Regions from separate parts of the Homo sapiens genome. Here all the other regions are linked to region 2. Evidence: fine-mapped expression QTL. A gene starts in region 2. Each other region holds a variant in brackets. All regions are shown on one strand. Distances are between the middles of the regions.

Evidence for each region. PIP is the estimated chance that this variant, and not a neighbour inherited with it, causes the effect. A credible set is the group of variants that fine-mapping cannot tell apart.
Region 1: its variant is the best candidate, but not a certain one, in a credible set for the expression of NQO1 in lymphoblastoid cells (GEUVADIS, PIP 0.64).
Region 3: its variant is the best candidate, but not a certain one, in a credible set for the expression of NQO1 in whole blood (TOPMed, PIP 0.52).

What each region holds. Positions count from the first base shown.
Region 1 is chr16:69,774,826-69,782,636 of GRCh38, forward strand. The region is part of intron 1 of WWP2 (WW domain containing E3 ubiquitin protein ligase 2); the gene reads left to right. Among named protein-coding and RNA genes, the nearest start is that of WWP2, 16 kb to the left of the region's middle. The variant A/AATATATATATAT (reference allele first, on the strand shown) is at 3,247.
Region 2 is chr16:69,722,426-69,730,236 of GRCh38, forward strand. NQO1 (NAD(P)H quinone dehydrogenase 1) reads right to left here and starts at 4,135. Exons shown (of 6, transcript NM_000903.3): 1 at 4,008-4,135. The coding sequence starts at 4,014. NQO1-DT (NQO1 divergent transcript) reads left to right here and starts at 4,302. Exons shown (of 2, transcript NR_186363.1): 1 at 4,302-4,750. RefSeq lists enhancers at 3,618-4,610, 3,697-4,896, 4,143-4,402, 4,611-5,604.
Region 3 is chr16:69,698,450-69,706,260 of GRCh38, forward strand. It overlaps NFAT5 (nuclear factor of activated T cells 5), which reads left to right. Exons shown (of 15, transcript NM_138713.4): 15 at 1-6,205. Among named protein-coding and RNA genes, the nearest start is that of SNORD13H, 6.3 kb to the right of the region's middle. The variant G/A (reference allele first, on the strand shown) is at 4,499.

The DNA of each region.
Region 1 (7,811 bases), 52 kb after region 2:
CAGGCATGGTGGCATGTACCTGTAACCCTAGCTACTCAGGAGGCTGAGGCATGAGAATCACTTGAATCTGGGAGGTGGAGGTGCAGTGAGCTGAGATCACGCCACAGCACTCCAGCCTGGGTGACAGAGCAAGACTGTCTCAAAAAAAAAAAAAAAAGAAAAGAAAAGAAAAAGTGAAAAGCATGCAAATTTATATCATATAAATTTACGTGACTAAGACCTGGAGAAACAGATAATGTGTATTTATGTTTAGGTTTGATGAAGAGTGGACAATCGTGGAGAAATACGATTGGACAAAAGGGGTATGATTGACTGGTAATACACTGGGGGAAATTTAACAAGTCCTATTTGTTCAGATTCTTCTCTGTGTCCTTTTGTTTTCAGAGAAGGATATTTCTTTCCTTGGGGTATAAGGAGGGCATCTCTCAAAGGAGGGTCATATGACCCGTTTCAGGGGAAGGTCAGAAAATCTTTCATAGGCTTTATGACCTGCTTTATGGGAGAAGGGTGAGAGGAAGCTGAGAGTGACTTCCTGCTTTTCCTGTTTTCTTAAATGCCAAGGTGTCATGTTTTGGGGTAAGGTATCTTAAACCCCATCAGCCATGTCCTGTCTACTGATGAGCCCATCAAGGCATTCTTCACTTCTATTACAGTGTTTATGATTTCTAGCATTTTCTGTTGACTCTTATAGTTGCTATATCTCTCCTTACATTGCCCATCTATTCTCATGTGTTGTCTGCTGTTTCCATTAGAGCCCTGAACCTAGTAATCATAGTTATTTTGCATTACCTGTTTGATTATTCTAAAATCTGTCCTATCTGAGTCAGGTTCTGATGCTTGCTTTATTTCTTTTTCACACTGTTTCTTCTTGCCTTTTAGTGTGTTTTGTAATTTTTCATTGAGAGCTAGACATTGACCTTCTTCCTGCTGATCAGTTCCTCTTCCTTACCCCTCCCTAGTTCTTGTTTAAAAAAGAAAGCTGGACATGATGTATTAGGTAATAGGAAATGAGATAAATAGTCCATTAGTATTGTTAGTATGGTGTTTCATGTTAATCTGGCTAAGAGTTGGTCTGTGTTTAATGATTGCTGTAACTGTTGGTATCTGAGGCTTCAAATTCCTCTAGTGTCCTTGTTTCTGTCTCCCCTGTTATCTTTGGTTTTCCCTAAAAACTCCTTCTTAAATAGAGTGTATGCCTTTCAGCCCTAATTCCCTGTTGTTGTACTGGAGCCCTGTTGGTGTGACAGCAAAGTATGGGGGAGGGGAAGCATTCTATAGCCTCATGGTCAAATCCTAGTCTTTTAGTGGGCCTGTGTCCCAGGCTATGACTGTCACTCATATTTAACTGTTTTTCTCCCCTTAGATGAAACAGAAAGGCTAAAGAGGGCTGGAGTCAGGGGACTTCTCTTCCACCAGGTAGGATAAGGCTCTGGTAAAGTCTTCTTCCCTGGAGAGTAGGCCATTGCTCTGGGCCTATTTCACTATGGTTACTTCCCACAACTAGAGCTAGGAGGGAATCTTTCTTGACTCTTTACCAGGATAATCTTGTAAAGAAGGATTTTTTCTTCTGTTTTATTCAGCAGTATACCACTAGCACCAAAACCAGTGCAGAGTACATAATAGATGCTCAATAAATATTTGTCAAATGAATGAATGCCTCTTATCTAAGCTCTAGAGATTGTTACCTAGATGTGGGAAGTTTCTTAACTTATAATGATAATAGGCCGGGCGCAGTGGCTTACGCCTGTAATCCCAGCACTTTGGGAGGCCAAGGTGGGCGGATCACCTGAGGTCAGGTGTTCGAGACCAGCCTTAACATGGAGAAACCCCGTCTCTACTAAAAATACAAAACATTAGCTGGGCGTGGTGGTGCATGCCTGTAATCCCAGCTACTCTGGAGGCTGAGGCAGGAGAATTGCTTGAACCTGGGAGGCGGAGGTTGTGGTGAGCCGAGATTGTGCCATTGCACTCCAGCCTGGGCAACAAGAGCGAAATTCCATCTCGAAAAAAAAAAAATAAAAAAAATTATAATAAACTGATGACATTTCTCTGAATGAAATTAGTCCCTAGTGTAGTATTTGCTTATTAGGTTCTGTAGTGTTTGTTTAATCTAAAACCCTACCTTAGATGGGATTGTTGTAGACCAGTAGTCTCAAGCTTTTTTGACTGCAACCTTTAGTAAGACATACATTTTATATCTTAAAACAGTATATGTGTGTGTGTGTATATATATGTATGTATATTTATTTTAAAACAGTATATGGATATATATATACACATATGTGTATATACAATACACATATGGATATATATACACATATGTGTATATACAATACACATATGGATATACACATATGTGTATATACAATATACATATGGAGATATCATATATGCACCTATTAATATATATACATGTATATTTATTTGGTAAAACTTTTTGTGAAATAATACTTTCCTTTGTGTGTGATATACTTTTATATTTTCTTTTTTTTTGAAACGGAGTCTCATTCTGTCACCCAGGCTGGAGTGCAGTGGTGCGGTCTTGGCTTATTGCAACCTCTGCCTCCTGGGTTCAAGCAATTCTCCTGCCTCAGCCTCCTTATTAACTGGGATTACAGGCACCTGCCACCACGACCAGATAATTTTTGTGTTTTTAGTAGAGATGGGGTTTCACCCTGTTGGCGAGGCTGGTCTCGAACTCCTGACCTCAAGCAATTCACCCACCTCAGCCTCCCAAAGTGTTGGGATTACAGGCATGAGCCACCGTGCTCGGCCTATATTTTCTTTTAAAAAAATCTTTTTATTTATTATAGTTTGGTATACAACTTTTATAGTTTCTACCCTATTAGTTTGTATTTTATTTTTAAAATGCTTGTCAAGATTTATGTAGAGGATAAGTTCAGAGGAAATATGTTGTTTGTATTTATATTATATATAAATATGTTATTTATATTTTTGAGACCAAGTGTGGTGGCTCATGCTTGTAATCCCATCACTTTGGGAGGCTGAGGTGGGAGGATTGCCTGAGCTCAAGAGTTCCAGATCAGCCTGAACAACATAGGGACCCCCTTCATCTGTACAAAAAATTTAAAAAATTAGGTGAGTCTGGTGGCTGGTGCCTGTAGTCCCAGCCTTTTAGAAGGCTGAGGTGAGAGGATTGCTTGAGCCCAGGAGGTTGAGGCTGCAGTGAGCCATGATTGTGCCACTGCACTCCAGCTTGGGGTGACAGAGTGAAACCCTGTCTCA[A/AATATATATATAT]ATATATATATATATATATACACACACACACACACATGTATATACATACACATAGATACACACACACACACATATATACATACACACTCATACTATAAATAAATATATATATATATATATATTTTTTTTTTTTTGAGAAATTTCAATAGATCTACCAGACTTAGTAAAGGGGGACATTTTGACTTTCCCATCCCCCTCCCAATAAGTCCATTAGTTTCTTCAATAATGAAATACTTTGTTCATCTGGTAACCTTTAGTTATATTTTAAACATTGACCCCCTTCTCCCTCTTCCAGCAAAGCTTATGCTCACTCAGAGTTTTGGAGTGATTAGGATGCAATTACTTTCCATGGCTATTAGCAGGGGAGAAATTACTTGAGTACGTGTACGGAGTCATCTGTTCGTGTTGCTGAGACAGAGTGTGAAGTCTGGGCCTCAGGTTTCCTAAGCTTCTTGTAGTGGATAGTGGGGATTTGGACCTAATACGCATTAGGAACCTTGTCTAAGATGGGAGGCAAAAGCTGAGAGGTCGAAAGTACTTTGATGGGGATGGGATCTGTTCCTTTCTATAGTTACGGTTATTTCTCTTGAGACAGAGTCTCGCTCTGTTGCCCAGGCTGGAGTGCAGTGGTGCGATCTCGGCTCACTGCAACGTCCACCTCCCGGGTTCAAGCAATTCTCCTGCCTCAGCCTCCCGAGTAGCTGGGATTATAGTTGCGCCACCACTCCTCGCTAATTTTTGTATTTTTCATAGAGACGGGGGTCTCACCATGTTGGCCAGGCTGGTCTTGAACTCCTGCCCTCAAGTGATCCGCATGCCTGAGCCTCCCAAAGTGCTGGGATTACAGGTGTGAGCTGTCACACCTGGCCGGTTATTTATTTATTTATTTATTTTTTGAGATGGAGTCTCGCTCTGTTGCCCAGGCTGGAGTGCAATGGTGCAATCTTGGCTCACTGCAACCTCCACCTCCTAGGTTCAAGAAATTCTCCTGCCTCAGCCTCCCAAGCAGCTGGGATTACAGGTGCCCGCCACCACACCCGGCTAATTTGTTATATTTTTAGTAGAGATGGGGTTTCACCATGTTGGCCAGGCTGGTCTCAAACTTCTGACCTCAGGTGATCCACCTGCCTCGGCCTCCCGAAGTGCTGGGATTACAGGCGTGAGCCACTGTGCGTGGCCCCGGCCGGTTATTTTTCTTTATGCATCAATTGGAAAGGTTTTACAATTCCAAATGCCTACATTATATAATGTCAGGGTGGTATCTTGCTCATTAGATCTGGAACTCCAGACAAAGCTCTATAGAATAACATGGATTACTGTTATATAAGCAGTGGACTGCAATTTTAAAAGACACTGGAGAAAGAAAACATGGTGATGTTTTATCTACCCTGTTTCTCCTGCCTTCCCAGTTGCCTTTGTTCCTTCTGAGCCTTCTTTAGAATTTATCTGATTGTTTTAGTTTTGCGGCCCTGAAGTGTAGATCAAAAAGTTTGGTCTTTCTTCTGTTGAACAGGCCATGTATGGGCTTCAAGTTCCATTCTCTAAGAGTCAGGACCAAAGGCTCAAAACTGCTACAGTTCAGGAGAACAAGATAGTTTAAAAACTACCATTAGTTGAGTTGCCTTAGGAAAGAAAGAGTCCCAATAGAAGTAAAGATTTCTAAAATATTCTTTCATTTTTAAAGTCTGTAAATAATGGATTTCCAGCGTTTAGTGCTTTAACCCCTGTTAACTAAAAGCCCCAAGGCTCAATTTATAATTATTTATAATCTTTCCTGCATTATTCAAGATACGATCTTTTGCTTCCCCTTAAAATTATTGTTCAATTATGAAAGAGATCAAACATATAAAATGGTTAGAGATGAAGATAACAAACAGTCATAAAAACCACCATCTGGATTTAATGAATATGAACATTTTGCCATATTTGCCCCAGAACTTTTTTCTTTGAAAGATAAAATGTTGTAGATACAGTTGAGGTTCCTTTGGTCTCTTCCCCACTCCAATTCCCCTGCTCCCTCCTCCCCTACCCTAGAGGGAACTTCTGTTCTGAACTTGGTGTGGTTCCTTCCCGTCGTACTTTTATACTTTTAAACGTTTGTGTGTCCACAACAACAACGTATACAGTTGTTTTGTGTAAGTTCAAGTGTACACCAAAGACATCGTACTAAGGCTGCCACTTGCCTTTTTTTTTTTTTTCCCCTCTTGGCATTATCATTTGGGATTTGTACATGTGGATTAAATTCATATATTTCAGGTACTATATAGCATTCCATTTTAGAAATATATCAATTTATCCATTCCCCCATTGATGGGTATTTAAGTTGTTTATAATTTTTTACTATTACAAATACTGCTATGATGAACATCCTTGAACATGGCCTCTTCTGTGTGTGTTGGAGAATTTCTCCCTCTGCAAATGCCTGGGAGTAGAATCCTGGTGGGTCCAAAATTACGCGTCTTTAACTCTGCCGGAGGTTGTCAGCTGCCATCTAATGTGCGCTGCCTCCACAGGCATGTGAGACTTCTCTCCAACACTAATTGTCAGGCTTCTCATCTCTTTCTAATCTGATGAGTAGCAAAGAGAGTTGATCTTTTTACTGCTTTGCCAAGACAAATTTAGTCTAAGTGAGTCAAAACATCATCTTTTTGGCCTGGTGAAATGGCTCATGCCTGTAATCCCAGCACTTTGGAAGGTGGGGCTGGGAGGATTGCCTGAGGCCAGGAGTTCAAGACTGGCCTGGGCAAGATGGTGAGATCCTATCTCTACAAAAAATAAATACATAAATTAATAAAAAAGGAAAAAAATCAGCTGGATGTGGTGGCAAATGCCTGTAGTCCCAGCTACTCAGGAATCTGAGGCGGAAGGATCACTGGAACCCAGGAGGTCAAGGTTGTAGTGAGCTATGATCATGTCACTGCACTCCATCCTGGGTGACAGGGCTAGACCCTGTCTCAAAAAAACAGGTTGGTCCTGTGGTAGTGGGTTATCAGAACTTATTAACATTAGTGTCACTAAAGTTTGTATACAACCCCTGAATGCTAAATTTGGCTTTAAAAAAGGAAAAAAAAAGAACTGAGATGGGAGTCTGTCTGCACGTTCAAGGGATAGTTGAACAGTGAGGAGGCCTGTGTGGCAGTAATCACAGCATGATGAGGGTGGGGGGATACTGGGGAGCAGGAAGTGGGCCATGAGGTCAGAGAGGGGTGTGGAAATGGGGGAAGGTATTGCATAGGACGTCAAAGTTCATTTGCAGGTCTTTGGCTTTTACTCTTTTTTTGTTTTTGTTTTTCAAACAGGGTCTCACTGTGTCACCCAGGCTGGAGTGCGGTGGCACAATCTTGGCTCACTGCAGCCTTGACCTCCTGGGCTCAAGGGATCCTCCCAACTCTGTGGTCCTGATTAGCTGGGTCCACAGGCATGTGCCATCACACTCAGCTAATTTTTGTATTTTTTTTGGAGAGATGGAGTTTGACCATGTTGCCCAGGCTGGTCTTGAACTCCTGAGCACAAGGTGATCCGCCCGCCTCAGCCTCCCGAAGTGCTGGGATTATAGGCGCCCGCTGGCTTTTACTCTGAGTTAGACGGTGTCTTAGTTCATTTTGTGTTTCTATAACTGGATAATAGAAACGGGATAATTTATAAAGAGACTAGGTAATTTATAAAGAAAAGAGATTTATTCTTTGTATTTGAGTCTGGGAAGTCTAAGGTGGAGGGCCCACATCCTGGCAAGGGCCTTTGTACTCCACATCCCAAGTGGAAGGAAAGGCAGGAGAGCTAGAGAGAAACGTGAGGGGCTGAACTTGCTTTTATAACAAACCTGCTCTTGAGATAGTGGCCCCAGCCCTGAAGTAACATCAATCTGCCCTCATGATCCAATCACCTCTTCAAGGCCCCACCTCTCAATACTGTTAAGATTAAATTTTCGGAGCCGGGCGAGGTGGCTCATGCCTGTAATCCCAGCACTTTGGGAGGCTGAGACGGGCGGATCACCTGAGGTCAGGAGTTCGAGACCAGCTTGGCCAACATGGTGAAACCCTGTCTTTACTAAAAATACAGAAATTAGCTGGGCGTGTTAGCGGGTGCCTGTAATCCCAGCTACCAGGGAGGCTGAGGCAGGAGAATCTCTTGAACCCGGGAGGCAGAGGTTGCAGTGAGCCAAGATAGCGCCACTGCACTCCAGCCCGGGTGACAGAGCGAGACTCCATCTCAAACAAACAAACAGACAAACAGAGGGATGACATTCAAAGCCTGAGACAGAATGAGGTAACTGAGAAGAGGTAGAACATTGATTGCTTGAGGTTGAGGACGGGGCAGGAGCCAACCAAGAAGGCTCAGGTGGGGCAGGAGGAGGATGAGGCAGGACTGGTATCCCCAGAGCTGAGGGAAAAAAGCAGTTAAAGAACAAAAGGGTGATCAGTTGTGTCAGATGCTGCCAATAGGTCAGTCATGTAAGAGGAGATGGAGAATTGCTATGGGATTTGGTAACCTGGAGGTCTCTCTGGAGCTCTTGATAAGAAGAGTTTGGTGTTGTATTCCATTTGCTAAGTACCATTTCAGAGGTT
Region 2 (7,811 bases):
CTGGGATTACAGGCGTGAGCCACCGCGCCCAGCCGGCATCTGCAACTTTTTTGCACCATCTGAATAACTAGAAATAACTAAAATAACTAGAAAGGCACATTTAAACCTTAAGCTCTCTTCCTGCTTTTATTATTGACCACATCTAGCAAGGCAAGTGCCTCTTGGGCTAAATTCAGCGAAGTGTAACTTTCAGGGCCCAATATGCCAAACCAGGGGATTTCCAAACTTGGTCCTAGGGTTTTGGACTCTTAAAACTAAGACTCAGTGGAATAGGTGTCTGGTGATGATTTCAATGCGCTGGAAGTGATTGACTTGCTTGGGATAGCTTGGAAAAAGGAAAAGGAAGCTCTGAGGCTGCCTCAACAAATTCCTACCTCTTTAACCCATGGATTTAACATGATTGGGAGGGAAGTGAGCATATTCAGCTCTAACAGGCATTTTCTTTGTAACTTACCTTGCCATTAGTCTTATCAATGTTTACTGATCGCCGCTCTGACAGTTTTTGTTTGTTTGTTTTTTTGAGACAGAGTTTCGCTCTGTCGCCCAGGCTGGAGTGCAGTGGCGCGATCTCGGCTCACTGCAAGCTCCGCCTCCCAGGTTCACGCCATTCTCCTGCCTCAGCCTCCAGAGTAGCTGGGATTACAGGCGCTCGCCGCCACGCCCGGCTAATTGTATTTTTAGTAGAGACGGGGTTTCACCGTGTTAGCCAGGATGGTCTCGATTTCCTGACCTCGTGATCCGCCTGTCTCGGCCTCCCAAACTGCTGGGATTACAGGCGTGAGCCACAGCGCCCAGCCAACAGTTTTTATTTTATTGACTTCTCATCAATGTTAACAAGCATTTTCTAAGTAGTAAGACAGTCAAGGCACTTCTCAGAAAATGAGCAAATCAGGATATCCATCTCTTGCTCTTTCAAGGAGCTCAGACTCTAATAGCTATAAGCAGGCCTGTGACTTTACAATTTTTCATGTAAGGCAACACACAAGCAGGAATAATATATTTGCAACAAATATAACCATCAAAGTGCAGTACCTGGAATAGGTAGATCCCCAAAACAACTCAAAAGAAAAATGATCAAAAGAAGGTTGTGGGTGGGTCGCGGTGGCTCACACCTGTAATCTCAGCACTTTGGGAGGCTGAGGCGGGCAGATCACCTCATGTCAGGAGTTAGAGACCAGCCTGGTTAACATGGTGAAACCCCGTCTCTACTAAAAATACAAAAAAAAATTAACCAGGTGTAGTGGCAGGTGCCTGTAATCCCAGCTAATCGGGAGGCTGAGGCAGGAGAATTGCTTGAATCCAGGAGGCGGAGGTTGCAATGAGCCGAGATCGCACCATTGCACTCCAGCCTGCGCAACAGAGCAAGCCTCTGTCTCAAACAAACAAACAAAAAGATGCTTGTGAATAGGCAATTTAAAAGTTTTCTGGGCCCTGGAGGGTTCATTTTCCCTTCCTGCCACTTAACTAGCTGAGCAACATGACCTGGGAGGAGTTAGACTATTAGAGTTTACCCTGAGAGAGGCCACAAGATGCACACACGGATAACCTCTTCAGGGTACAATGGCATTAGTGTGTTAGGAGAGGTAAGGGACAAAGTTCAACAGAAGGCTGGGTGTGGTGGCTCATGCCTGTAATCGTAGCACTTTGGGAGACCGAGGCGGGTGGATTACTTGAGGTCAGGAGCTAGAGACCAGCCTGGCCAACATGGTGAAACCCCGTCTCTACTAAAAATACACAATTAGCTGGGCGTGGTGGTGGGCGCCTGTAATCCCAGCTACTTGGGAGGCTGCAGCACAAGAATCGTTTGAACCTGGGAAGTGGAGATTGCAATGAGCCAAGATCACGCCACTGCACTACAGCCTGGGCAACAGAGTGAGTGAGACTCCATCTCAAAAAGTTCAACAGAGGAAAACTTCAGGACCTCAGGGCTGGCCCATTCGGAAAGGCCCTCAGAGGAGCTTGCCATTTGAGCTGAATCTTGGTCTTGAACTCCTGGCCTCAAGCAGTCCTCCCGCCTCAGCCTCCCAAAAGTGCTGGGATTACAGGAATGAGCCACCACTCCCAGCCAAAATTTTTTTTTTTTTTAATTAGCTGGGTTTCAAGTTCTTCTGCTCTGACCAAAAAAAATTAGCTGGGTGTGGTGGCACACACCTGTAGTCCCAGCTACTCGGGGGCAAAGATGGGACAATCACTTGAGCCCAGGAGGTCAAGGCTGAAGTGAGCCCTGATCATGCCACTGCACTCCAGCCTGGGCAACAAAGCAAGACCCTGTCTCAAAAAGAAAAAAAGAAGTATGATAAAGATAAGCCTTTGTATCAGTTTCATGCATTCTCCTTCTGCCTTCTCTTCTCACTTGAGTGCTCCAGGGAACATGAGTGCAAATCAGATGCATCTATTAGTTGCAAACAAAAAACCTGGATGCTTTAGTTAACCTCAAGATTTGGTTAGCTGGGTACAGCTAAAACTAATTATACAAGATCCAAGTCTTCCCTTTTCACCTCATTACCACCGCCCTTTTTTGTGTTTAAGCTACACGTAAATACAGAACATTCTGTAAGATTGAAAAGTCAGGAAATAGTTCCTGCCCTAGTATTGGAGGAGAGGGTGCCAGTGCCTCGACGCTGAAGAATGAAATACAAGGGAAACAGCAACCACCGTGTATGCGGCAAGCCTCTCAGCTGTCAGAATCTATTCCCTGCTGTCTCTGCCAGTAACTCATGCTGGGCTACCAATCCCCAGCTTAGTCCCTTTCTCAGAGATCCTGATAATTTCAGTTTGTCAACTGCAAGGGCAGTCTGTTCCTCCACTCACTTTGACCAAGATGGGCTTCTTTGTGTACAGGCGCATTTTTAGAGGCAGGACCAGGTCCACAGGGAAGGAAATTACAAAACACAGGATTCTGCCCCAGATGAGGCAACAGCTTTCTAAATCTTAGTACTGTCCAATCTCAGAGTGAGATTATTTGGGAAACAGCTCTCAATCCCTGCAGTTGTCTCAGCTGGTTATTTATGCCTTGGGTGGAGCTGGGGTGACCTCTGAGTTCCCCTAGGGTCGATGGCCGAGTGGGAAGGCTCTATCACTGAAGTGGACCCAATACTAGAAACGGATCCAGTACGATCTGATCAGGTTTGCCTAATCCAAGGGCCTCAATGGAAAATGCCTCCCAAGGCCAGGCACGGTGGCTCACGTCAGTAATCTCAGCACTTGGGGAGGCTGAGGTGGGTGGATCACCTGAGGTCAGGAGTTCAAGACCGCGCTGGCCAACTTGGCGAAACCCGTCTGTACTAAAAATATAAAAATTAGCCGCGCATGATGGCGCACTCCTGTAATCCCAGCTACTCGGGAGGCTGAGATGGGAGAATCGCTTGAACCCGGGAGGCGGAAGTTTCGCTGAGCTGAGATAGCGCCATTGCACTACAGCCTGGGCGACAAGAGCAAAACTCCGTCTCAAACAAAACAAAACAAAACAAAACAAAACAAAACCTGTGCCTGGCAGCCTGGAGCCGGTTCTGGTCTCCGTCAAACCAAAGGCATCAGTTTCCTCCACTCCTGTCCACCAATCGCCAGATATTCTCATTTTCTTCAGAAGCTCGGAATCCACATTTTTAAGTGAAATCACCCATTTTAATGTTAGCAACTTATTTCAAAGTGTTTTAGATACTATAGACCAAAAGAGGTATGGGCTGTGACCGTAAGCCTGATTTGGCCTCTGACGGCCAGTTTCTGACCACAGTTTTGGAGGGAATTTCTGCTTCCAAGGTCAAGTTTCTCCTAAATGCCCACTAGAGTTCGTGGGGTGGAGTGAGGAAGGATCCGCGACACCGGATACAAACAGAAGCTCTCCTTCTCCCGGAGTCCGATCAAGGCTCATCCCAGGTCCCTAATCTCTTCCCTTTGTGGGTTTTGAGTCAAGGAACAAAATTCAGGGCCAAGCCCCTACAACCTCCTCCACAGGCACCAGTGCTCGAGAGACGACCGCCAAGCACCCCGCCCTTTGCAGCACTCACCGACCATGGCTCTGGTGCAGTCCGGGGCGCTGATTGGCTGGGCTCGTGGTTGCCGGGGCGACCCTGGCCGGAACTAGGCTCTCGGTGAGCTGGGCGGCTCCGGCTGCAACCTTGTGGGAGTCGCGTGTGTAGTGCACGGTGCATTCTCTCTTATATATCCTGTCCGGCCCGTTTGAGGTGGACAGCCTACAAGGGCGGGACCCAACGCCTGAATCCTGGGGTGCTGGGCGGAGGATGCTGAGGCTGCAGCTCCAGGAAGGGAGGGAGCCTGGGGGATGAAGGAGGGGCCTCTCCACTCTCACCCGCCGGAGCAACTGGTGGAAGTCAAGAAAAGTCTCTCGGGGCTGGGGGAGGGGATTGTAGGGGTGTGTGTGACAGAGGCCTCAAAAATCTGGCTGGGGGTGCTAAGGCAAGCCCATCTGCGCACTGTGCCCTGAGGTGCAAGAGGATGCAGGGTGGAAGTCGTCCCAAGAGAGTCCAGGGATCAAGTGGGCATGCCCTTTTAGCCTTGGCACGAAATGGAGCAGAAAAAGAGCCGGATGCGGATTACTGTGGTGCCCTAGGCTCAGATTCTGCTGAGTCACTGTGACTGCGGATTTGGAAGGCTGAGAGTCCTGGGGAGACATGCTCCGTGGAGACGAATTTGTTTCTTCCTTTGCAAGATTCAGATTCTGCACTTGGGGGCCCATACAACACACTTCCCTGGGTGCATGCCACTGCACCACCCCTGCTCCTCAAGGCAGGTAATGGGGGAACTAATTGGTTTTGTTTCCCATGAGCTAAGGCAAGGCTGGTGTGGAGATAGCAGTTATAGGGAAGCATATTAAAGAATAGCCAAAACGGGACCAGGCGCGGTGGCTCACGCCTGTAATCCCAGCAATATGGGAGGCCGAGGTGGGTGGATCACCTGAGGTCAGGAGTTCGAGACCAGCCTGGCCAACCTGGTGAAGCCCCGTCTGTACTGAAAAATTAGCTGGGCGTGATGGCGGGCGCCTGTAAGTCCCAGCTACTCGGGAGGCTGAGGCAGGAGAATCGCTTGAACCCGGAAGGCGGAGGTTGCAGTGGGTCGAGATCGTGCCACTGCACTCCCGCCTGGGTGACGAAGTGAGACTCCGTCTCAAAAAAAACTCTATAAAGTAAAAGTTACTGTAAAGAAGGAGATATACTCTCAGTAGGTGAAGGAAAAAGAACTAGAGCTTTAAAGTGGTAATTAACCATCAGAAGAATCACAGATGGGGGAGGTGAGGATGACACAGGGCCCTTCCGTTGTCCCTCCAGTGCAAAAGTTAAGGAGGCACCAGAAAACTGGTTTCCAACTCCCGACCTCAGGTGATCCTACCGCCTCGGCCTCCCGAAGTGCTGGGATTACAGGCATGAGCCACCGCGCCCGGCCCCATCGTGACATTTTTGCATTCATTTTGATGCAACAAGAGAGGACTATATTATTTACACGTATTTACAAATTACTTTGGGAGGCTGAGGCAGGAGGATCACTTGAGCCCAAGAGTTTGAGAAAAGCCTGAGCAACAAAGTGAGACCCCATCTGACAAAATAGTATAAAAGGACGTTTTAAAAAAGGGCTAGGTAGGCAGCCCTGTCCAATAGAACTTTCCCTATCTGTGCTGCCCAAGTAAGGTAGCCACAAGCTTCAAGTAGCTATTGAGCACTGGAAATGTGGCCAGCAGCCAGGCGTGGTGGCAGGCGCCTGTGTCCCAGCTACTCAGGATCTGAGGCAAAAAGATCGCTTGAGCCCAGGAATTCAAGGCCGCAGTGGTGGACTCAATAAAAGAAAAAAAATGGAAATTAAAAAAAAAAAAGTGGCCAGTGGACTGAGGAAGTGAAGTTTTAATTGTAATTAAATTAATTTTTTAAAAATTTATTTTTTGAGGCGGGGTTTCACTGTGTCGCCCAGGCTGGAGTGCAGTGGCAGGATCTTGGCTCACTGCAATCTCCATCTCCTGGGTTTAAGCAATTCTTGTGCCTCAGCTTCCTGAGTAGCTAGGACTACGGGCATGCACCACCACAGTCAGCCACTTTTTGTATTATTCGTAGAGATGAGTTTCACCATGTTAGCCAGGCTGGTCTCAAACTCCTGACCTCAGGTGATCTGCCCACCTCGGCCTCCCAAAGTGCTAGGATTACAGGCATGTGCCACTGCGCCTGGCTTTAATTAAATTTAGATAGCCACATGTCACTAGTGTTTGGAAAGACCTGAGCTGGTTCAGATCGAGGCCGCAGTGTGCTGGCTATTCTATCTCTCACTCTTCTAGTGAGATTGTTTTCTCAATCACCAGTCTCCCTGACCCATCCAGAGGTGGGGCTCAAAGCCACAAAGCTCAAGTGTCGTGTTCGGTCGTTGGTTTCCAGCATGGCCAGTTCCCATCCTCAGTCATCTTGTTAACATGAACTATATAGGGGCCCATCCCAAGTCATCTCATTAGCATAAACCATCAGGAGTGGTCTGAGAAGCCCACAATGAATAAGATGGACACTCCTATCATTTGGGATTTAGGGGCTCAGGGGCATGATGATAGTTCACTGCAGCCTCGACCTTCTGGAGTCAAGCAATCCTCCTGCCCCAGCCTCCTGAGTAGCTGAGATGACAGGTGCATGCCACCGTGCCTGGCTAATTTTTTTTTATTTTTTTGGTAGAGATAGGGTCTCACTATGTTGCCCAAGCTGGTCTCAAACTCCTGGGCTCATGTGATCCTCCCGCTTTGATCTCCCAAAGTGCTGGAGTTACAGGTATGTGCCACCACTCCTGGCCAAATTTGTTACTACACAGTGGTAAAGACAGACATTTGAGGTGGCAGTGAACCAAGATCATGCCACTGCACTCCAGCCTGGGCAACAGAGGGAGATCCTGTCTCAAAAGAAAAAAAGAAACTTACTGGCCGGGCACAGTGGCTCAGGCCTGTAATCCCAGCACTTTGGGAGACTGAAGCGGGTGGATCACTTGAGCTCAGGAATTGGAGACCAGCCTGGCCAATGTGGTGAAACCCCGTCTCCACTAAAAATACAAAAACATGAGCTGGGTGTGGTGGTGGGCGCCTCCAGTCCCAGCTACTCGGGAGGCTGAGGCACGAGAATCGCTTGAATTCAGGAGGCAGAGGTTGCAGTGAGCTGAGATTGTGCCACTGCACTCCAGCCTGGGCAACAAGAGCGAGACTCCATCTCAAGAAAAAAAGAAAAAGAAAAAGCTGCTGTGGAGCATGGGCGAGCACTGCTGCCTGGACAAAGACCGAGGGTCCTCGGGAGGGCAGTACTGATGTACAGGTTTCCAGCAGGTCGGCGTGTGTGTTCTCTCCTGCAGGTCTGCAGCCAGGCGTGCCAGGAGAGGGGGAGTCTGAGGGATTGATGTAGGTTGGGAAAGCATGATGAGAGGAGACAGAGTGGGGGCTGTGAAGAAGAGAGCGACTTGATGGTGGCGGTAGTTACACAGATGTATGTATTTATTAAAATCCGCTGAAAAGTACATTTTAAATACAAGCATTTTATTGTATGCATGTTATTCCTCAACAAAGTCCATTTTTAAAAAGTAGAGTGGTTGGAGTGATGACGAACATTATGAAAGGGCTTATTGGCAGAGAAAAAGTAGAGGGGTCCAGAGACTCAAGTTCCTAACGAGGCTGAAGTAAGAGTGGGGGATTAAATAAGGGCAAAAACTGAGAGAATAAAAAAAGTGGGTTGTTTGGGGCCAGGTGCGGTGGCTTATACCTGTAATCCCAGCACTTTGGGAGGCCAAGGCAGGGGGATCGCTTGAGCCCAGGAGTTCAAGACCAGCCTGGGCAACATAGTGAGACC
Region 3 (7,811 bases), 24 kb before region 2:
GTTTGTCTGATGTTCTACCACAACGTGGCGTCTGATAACAGTGAGGGGGGGTGGGGTTTGTTATGTCTTTATTGAGTATTTAAGTATCTTTTGAAACAAATGACCTGTTCATCTGTGGCCATTCCATCAGGCAGTTAGTTCCTTGATGTCAGTAGTGGGCTAAAGGCAGCTTACTGTGTGTTTGCTGGAGCTTTCACTCAGCCAAGTGTTAGAGTCAGGAAACCCATTGAGGCAATGGCGTCAAATGGTGTTTCACAAGAATGAGCCATTCAGTCTTTGCTCACTATATATTTAATATTTTATTATTGTTGTTATTGTTATTATTAATTGGCTTTCTGTATTCTATGCCTTTTATTTATAAAGACACTAAGAAAACCCATGTTTGTAATTTTAATAACATTTTTCCCATCTTGTAATATCCAGAGCTACTTTATAAATTCTCTGAACCAAAAGTATTTTCCTCAGTGTATCTCTTCTCCCCCAGCCCCTATTGGGAAAAATTACCCAGTATAGTTCAGGTTATGAGGAGGATCAGCCACACAATCCAGTGCTTCAGTTTGAAAATGTAAAATTCTAACCCTAAAGTAGGGTTGGTTGAAATTTCAGACAAAGCAAACCCAGCAGGTATAAAAAGTAGTATAAATACAAATCTGTAAGTTATTTTTGAATTTTCTGAACTTTTTTCTAAGAGATTACATAGGAGACTAAAGAAATCTATCTGTTCAAGTTCTAATTAGGATGATTGTTAATACTGCACTGTGGATGAAGTGGCGACTGGCTTGTGTGCTGACTTCTGTGGTTTAGCAAGAGGTTTATTGTTATCAAATGCTAATTGGCAATGCCAAGTCACTGGGACCAATTTTCTGTTTTATAATATCTAAGTTTAGAACAGAATATATACCTGAACTGTAGTGGTTTGATCGGATGGAGACAGAAAACCCGATTTTTATTCTCATAAATTTTGTGGTTATTTATACAAGGGCTGTGCTATGCTACCATATTCTTGTTCAATAATAATAGGTTTGTTGTTTTTTTTACATTGTTAAATGTTCCTTACCCCTAAAGGTCAATGTTAAGTACAACATTCTGAAAATACAATTTGGCTACGAAGAGTATTCATCTTCTTTGAAGCTCAGTGGTTGATATTTGTGCTAATAATGCAATTTCCTGATTACTGTTACAAGTTATAGCTACATATGGGAGAGACTCAGTGAGCCAGCAAAGGCCATAGAAACAACAATTTATTAAATGTATTTATGGCAGAAGGACCTAAATAAACTGTGAGCCACCTTTTCTTCTTTATATTGTTACATTTAAGTGTTCTTGCTTTCAGCAACTCACATTAATGCTTGGAGCTTATCTCTTTCTCTCTCTCTCTCTCTCTCTCTGTGTGTGTGTGTGTATGTGTGTGTGTGTGTGTGTGTGTTTCCTTATTGTCATTCCATTATATATCCACACCAACATGGGTGACGATAATTCAAAGTCATATTTTGCCTCTAAGCTTGATCATGTTACCTTTATGATTAAAGTATCATGTTATTTAGCCAATGCAAATCTGTTTTAAAACAAATAGTTTAAAAAAAGAACAAGTTTTTAAGGGCTTTATTATAGAAGAAGTATTAATGAAGGACTTTCCTTCCTCCCTCCCTTTCCTCCCCTCCCTGCCTCCCTTCTTCCCTTCCATCTCCCCCTCCTCCCTGCCTTCTTTGTTTCTCCTTCCCTTATTCCTCCCTCCCTCCTTTCTCCCTTCCTTCCTTTCTTCCATTCATCCTTCCTTGCCTTTTATTTTTATTTTTTGTAATATCACATGTGCTGTAGTTTGGAATTTTATTCTAGTGCATTTCTTGCTCATCAGAACCTCAGCTAATCTACCTAGGAAAAATAGTATCAAAGGAAATGAGAAAGTTGTATCTGAGTCCCTCCAGAACTAAGATAATTCTTTTTGACCATTTAAGCCTTTATAAATGCGTTTTGACCATTTAAGCCTTTATAAATGCTTGTTTTAGGAAAGTGAATCTGTTAGATGCATCAACAAATAATGACCAGGACAAAACGATTTAATAATTAAAGTCTCAAATCACCATGGTTATACATTTTCACCAGAAATAGTAATCTTACAATTTTTCATTTTTCTGATGAAGATTTCTGTTCCAATATCTGTTTCCTAATAGATTTTTTAAATTAATTAGCTTTCCTCTGCTTTATGACCACAGGTTTTATCCCTAACCGAGACAGCTGTCTTATATCTGCATGCCTTAGACTGTGTGGAGGGACTCCATGAAGAAAGACCATAGGTTAGAAAAATAACTCATAGTATATACCCTAGTAAGTGGGTTAGTAGAATCTCATAACATGTATTAAAAAGAGGTTTTCTTCTCTGCTTGTTTGTGTCACTAGAGCAAAATTGTAGAGATAATGCTCATAATGCAGTAAATATCAGAATAATATCTACAATATCATTTGTGGATGGTCCCAGGTCCCAGTGCTCTAGTTACTTTACTTCTTTTTTTTTTTTTGAGATGGAGTCTTGCTCTGTCTCTCAGGCTAGAGCAGTGTGCGATCTCAGCTCACTGCAGCCTCCACCTCCCAGGTTCAAGCGATTCTCCTGCCTCAGCCTCCCAAGTAGCCAGGATTACAGGCACCCTCCACTAGGCCCGGCTAATTTTTTTTGTATTTTTTTAGTAGAGATGGGGTTTTGCCATGTTGGCCAGGCTGGTTTCGAACTCCTAACCTCCAGTGATCCACCTGCCTCGGCGTCCCAAAGTGCTAGGATTACAGGCATGAGCCACCACATCCGGCCTAATTACTTCTTTAATCCCCATTTATTTTTATGCCATTCTAGCCTCATTTATTAATAAAATTATGTTTTTACTTTCTCTTTCAGGAAATTTTTTAAATTAATATTTTATATCTAGATCTAATGCTATGGAAAAGTGCCTTTTTATCATTTATAATTTCATTTTTCACTATTTCCAAAAACACATAAACAAATAGTTTCAGTAGGTCCCAGCTTTTACTTTTTCCATTTAAACCTTCTTTTCTCCATTTCTTCCCTTTGGCTTAAGAATAAAAGAAAAGGTACATTGCTAGAATTGTTTCTTTGGGAGAGGGTAAAAGATTACAGAATTAGACTGTTCAGCCTTTATATAAACTAAATTTGTCTTCATCTCAACCAGCTAATGGTAGGTCTTATCTGAATACTCATGAGAATTTTAGCATCTGTGAAACTCCATGCACCAGATGTGTGTAAATTTCAGGAAGAAAGTGTTGAAAGCATTTTCTCTGATGTTAATTAGATGGAAATAAATCACTAAAACATAGTTTAGGTAAAGCCTGATTATGCCACTTTTTTTTAACTAGACAGGGCAAAGTTGTTTATGTTAGTGTACTTCTTGTCTATCCTCAGTTAATTTACCTAGACAAAAAGTGTCAAAGGAAATGAGAAAAAGGTTATATCTGACTCCCTCCAGACCTAAGATAATTCCTTTTGATCAGATACAGTCAGATGGAGTGCCTTGGTTTTTGTTAATTTTGCCTCTATTCCAGCTCCTTACCACAGCGGTGGTGCTTAAAGAAAGGATCATCAGCAACAGGTCAGGATAGTTCTACCTTTGGGATAGGGCTGCTTTCCCCGTGCTAGTATTTCTGTGACTGTTAGTGGCACTGAGGACTGCAAACTTTTATGCAATATTCTTAATACCCTATTGATATTATGCACTTTAATCATTCCAAAGAAGCCAAGAATGCTGTATAGTGATGATTCCTTCCTAATGAATTCATCTTAACTATTTAGAATGTTATGTCCCTTTTCTTTTGGATAGCCAACTTGGTATAAATGTTATATGGATTTTTCTAAAATGACTATATAGGACTTAAGACTTTGAAATGTAATTTACTTATAAGGGGAAATAATTATGCTTTAGCACATCATTTTAGAAACGTCACATTTTAGAAACATTCAGCTTGCTAACCTACATGTTTGGGAATTCATTAAAACCAGTTGTCTATATATTTTGTGCCATGTATATAAGAACATTACAATATATCTTTTTCTACATATGTAGTATGTGCAACCAGTGGTTCTCAGAGTATGGTTCTCAGCCCACCAGCTAGTATCAGTATCACCTGGGAACTAGTTAGAAATGTAAATTCTTTGGCCCCATCCCAGACATACTGAGTCAGAAACTCTGGAATAGGGCCCCCGCAATCTGTTTTCACAAGCCCTCCAGGTGATTCTGATGCACACTTTAAAGTTTAGGAACCACTGGGCTAAGACTCTGTTGAGATATAGAGTTTTTCTTCCACTCAGACTGATATAGTTATACATTGTTCTTCATGTAAATTCAGCTTAACCTGGTTATCTATAATCTTTTATTGGCAAAAGTTAATTCTCAGTACTGCCTATAGAGATACAGTGTATTTTATGTACATACACAATTAGTCTAATTCTTGATAATTCAGTTAATTTAGTTTGGCATTTTCCTACCACTTACTAAAA[G/A]GTTTACATTAAATGACTGATTTAAATATATAGGTGCAATGTTCTATGTTTATTTTAATTGTTATGACATTTAAGTAGCTAATATAATTGACCGGTGCTAAAGTCTCCTGTTTATCCATAAAATGGGTACATTATGGGCAGTGTAATACAAGCTTTCTTTTCATTGCCTAGTACTTTACCAGCAGACCACAGTTTTGCCCTGGCTAGACCAACCCTCAGAACAAAATCATCATTCCTTGTATTTATATTTGTATCTGAGATAGTAAACAAGATGGCTGGCCAGGTCAACATGGCACCTTAACTTATTTTTTTAATAGGTAAAACTTCTTCAAAAGTAGCTTGCTTTGTATAAGAACTAAGCTATCAGTATAGATATAGCTATCCTTGGAGCTTATGTTTCAGACAAGAATTATTTACTAAAATAAATAATAAACAAGATAATGCATTATACAATTTGGGCATTTCTCGTTTCTCAAGTGTATGCATCATGGTAAATATAAACTAACCACAAGATAGGTAGATTGATTCATTTCATTTTAATCTCCTTGTGTAATTCAGTACCTCCATAATTGTTCTAATCTTCTTCCCACTGTTTACAAATTACCAGTTAATTAACTCGTGAAAGAAAAATTCACATATCAGAATAAAAATAAATGTATACTCACTTTATAAAAATCACCACTGCTGTCTTTCCTTAATACTAGCAGTGGAAATGTAAGTGGCTTACTCTACAAATTTTGGTGCTGGCAAATACATAGGCAAACTGTTGGGAGCTGCTCTAGTTACATTCCTCCCTTCTTATTCCCTTTTTCTCTTCCTCACTTTATTGCATAACATATTCCTGTACCCAAAGCATTCTACCACAGTTCTATTTGACTCCCACTTGTAATAACTCCTTTAAAAAATTCCATGTTTAACCATATGACCCTGCTTGCTTACTCATATTCTCCCTCCCTCTCCCCTTCCTTTCTCTCTCTTCCAGAAGTCATTTGCCTGGTTTGAAATATTTTGTAGGGATTGCTTATTATATTATTTTAGCTGATGAACCTCAGGACAACGTCTACACACACACACATACATACACGCACACAAAATCTCAGCTGTTGAAGAGTGGGCTTGGAATCAGACTTCTGTGTCCAGTAAAAAACTCCTGCACTGAAGTCATTGTGACTTGAGTAGTTACAGACTGATTCCAGTGAACTTGATCTAATTTCTTTTGATCTAATGAATGTGTCTGCTTACCTTGTTTCCTTTTAATTGATAAGCTCCAAGTAGTTGCTAATTTTTTGACAACTTTAAATGAGTTTCATTCACTTCTTTTACTTAATGTTTTAAGTATAGTACCAATAATTTCATTAACCTGTTCTCAAGTGGTTTAGCTACCATTCTGCCATTTTTAATTTTTATTTAATTTTATTTGCTTGAGCACACTGATCAACCACTGAACTGCCTTCTTCCATTGTCCTGCAATGATATAAGGGTTACATTTTTGTGTATATGGCTTTCATAGTTGGGATTTCAGAGCACTGATACCAGATATTTTCAGTTTGTTCTCTGGGGGAATTTCATTTGCATCTATGTTTTTAGCTATCTGTGATAACTTGTTAAATATTAAAAAGATATTTTGCTTCTATTGGAACATTTGTATACTCGCAACTATATTTCTGTAAACAGCTGCAGTCAAAAATAAAACACTGAAAGTTTTCATTTTGCAGTGGATAGCTGTCTTTTTTTTCCTCAAACTTTGTGAATGGAATTGTGTGCATGAACGACAGTTTTGAGCAGCATGAGTATATGGCTGAAATTATAAAATCATTAGGGAGGAGGTGTGAAATATAGACATATTTCTGAGTAGTTATTTTGTGCCTACCATTTTGCCAGGTAGAGTATAAGTGACTCAGTGTGACAGAATTTTTGTTTTACGTATAATTTAAATGTTTCATGTTTAGTAAAGCAATACATATACACGGAGGTGCTTTTGATGAAAACCAAGTCTCCCCATCCCTTAGTCCCATGCCCAGAGACAATCTCTGTTTATTCTTTTGGTGTTATTTCTACATCTCTAAATTAGCGCATATCAGAGTGTGGTACACAACTACCCGTGGTACGTGGATAAACACTATTTTTAAACTTACATGTATAAGTGTTTTGATGCGTAATAGAAAAAAATATAGGCTGGGCTCAGCGGCTCACGCCTGTAATCCCAGCACTTTGGGAGGCTGAGGCAGGCAGATCACCTGAGGTCAGGAGTTCGAGACCAGCCTGGCCAACATAGTGAAACCCCATCTCTACTAAAAATACAAAAAATAGCTGGGCATAGTGGCGGGCACCTGTAATCCCAGCTACTTGGCAGACAGAGGCAGGAGAATCGTTTGAACCCGGGAGACGGAGGTTGCAGTGAGCAGAGATCGCACCATTGCACTCCAGCCTGGGCAACGGGGCGAGACTCTGTCTAAAAAATAAAAAAATAATAATGTGTCTACCTACCAGAGTGAGGGAAAAAGTGAGTCAAATTAAAGAAAAATATTAAATCACTGGGCTCAGTGGCTCATGCCTCTGTAATCCCAGCTACTCGGGAGGCTAAGACAGGAGGATCACTTGAGGCCAGGAGTTGGAGACCAGCCTGAGCAACATAGCAAGACCCTGTCTCTATTTTTTTTTTTTTGATGTTTAAATGAAAGGAAAAAGGAAGAAAAATATTTTTTAAAAAAATGCTAATACAGATACATGGGTGTCATGAATATGGTATCTAATTGAATCGTAAAAGACATTGCTTTAGACAGCATACTTATACCTTCCTATCAAATATAGACAGTATCTGTTGATTCTGTAAAGGAGTAACAATTCTTAATACATCCAAATCTATATATATATATCTAAATGAGTTGTTAGGAGATTTTATATATATATATACATATATATAAAATTTATTATTATTTTTTAAACAATCCTTCTGTTCTAAATACAGTATGCCTTGCCAAGCATGGTGGCTCATGCCTGTAATCCCAACACTTTGGGAGGTCGAGGCAGGAGGACCACTTGAGCCAGCCCGGGAGTTCAAGACCAGCCTGGGCAACAAAGTGAGACTTCGTATCTACAAAACATAAAATAATTAGCCAGGCATGTTGGCATGCGCCCATAGTCCCAGCTATTCAGGCGGCTAAGGTGAGAGGATCACTTAAGTCCAGGAGTTTGAGGCTGCAGTGAGCTATCATCATGCCACTGCACTCCAGCCTGGATAACAGATACTGACACTGTCTAAAAAAAAAAAAAAAGGAAAAAAAGAATAAAAGTTGTCTTTTGGTGTTTATTG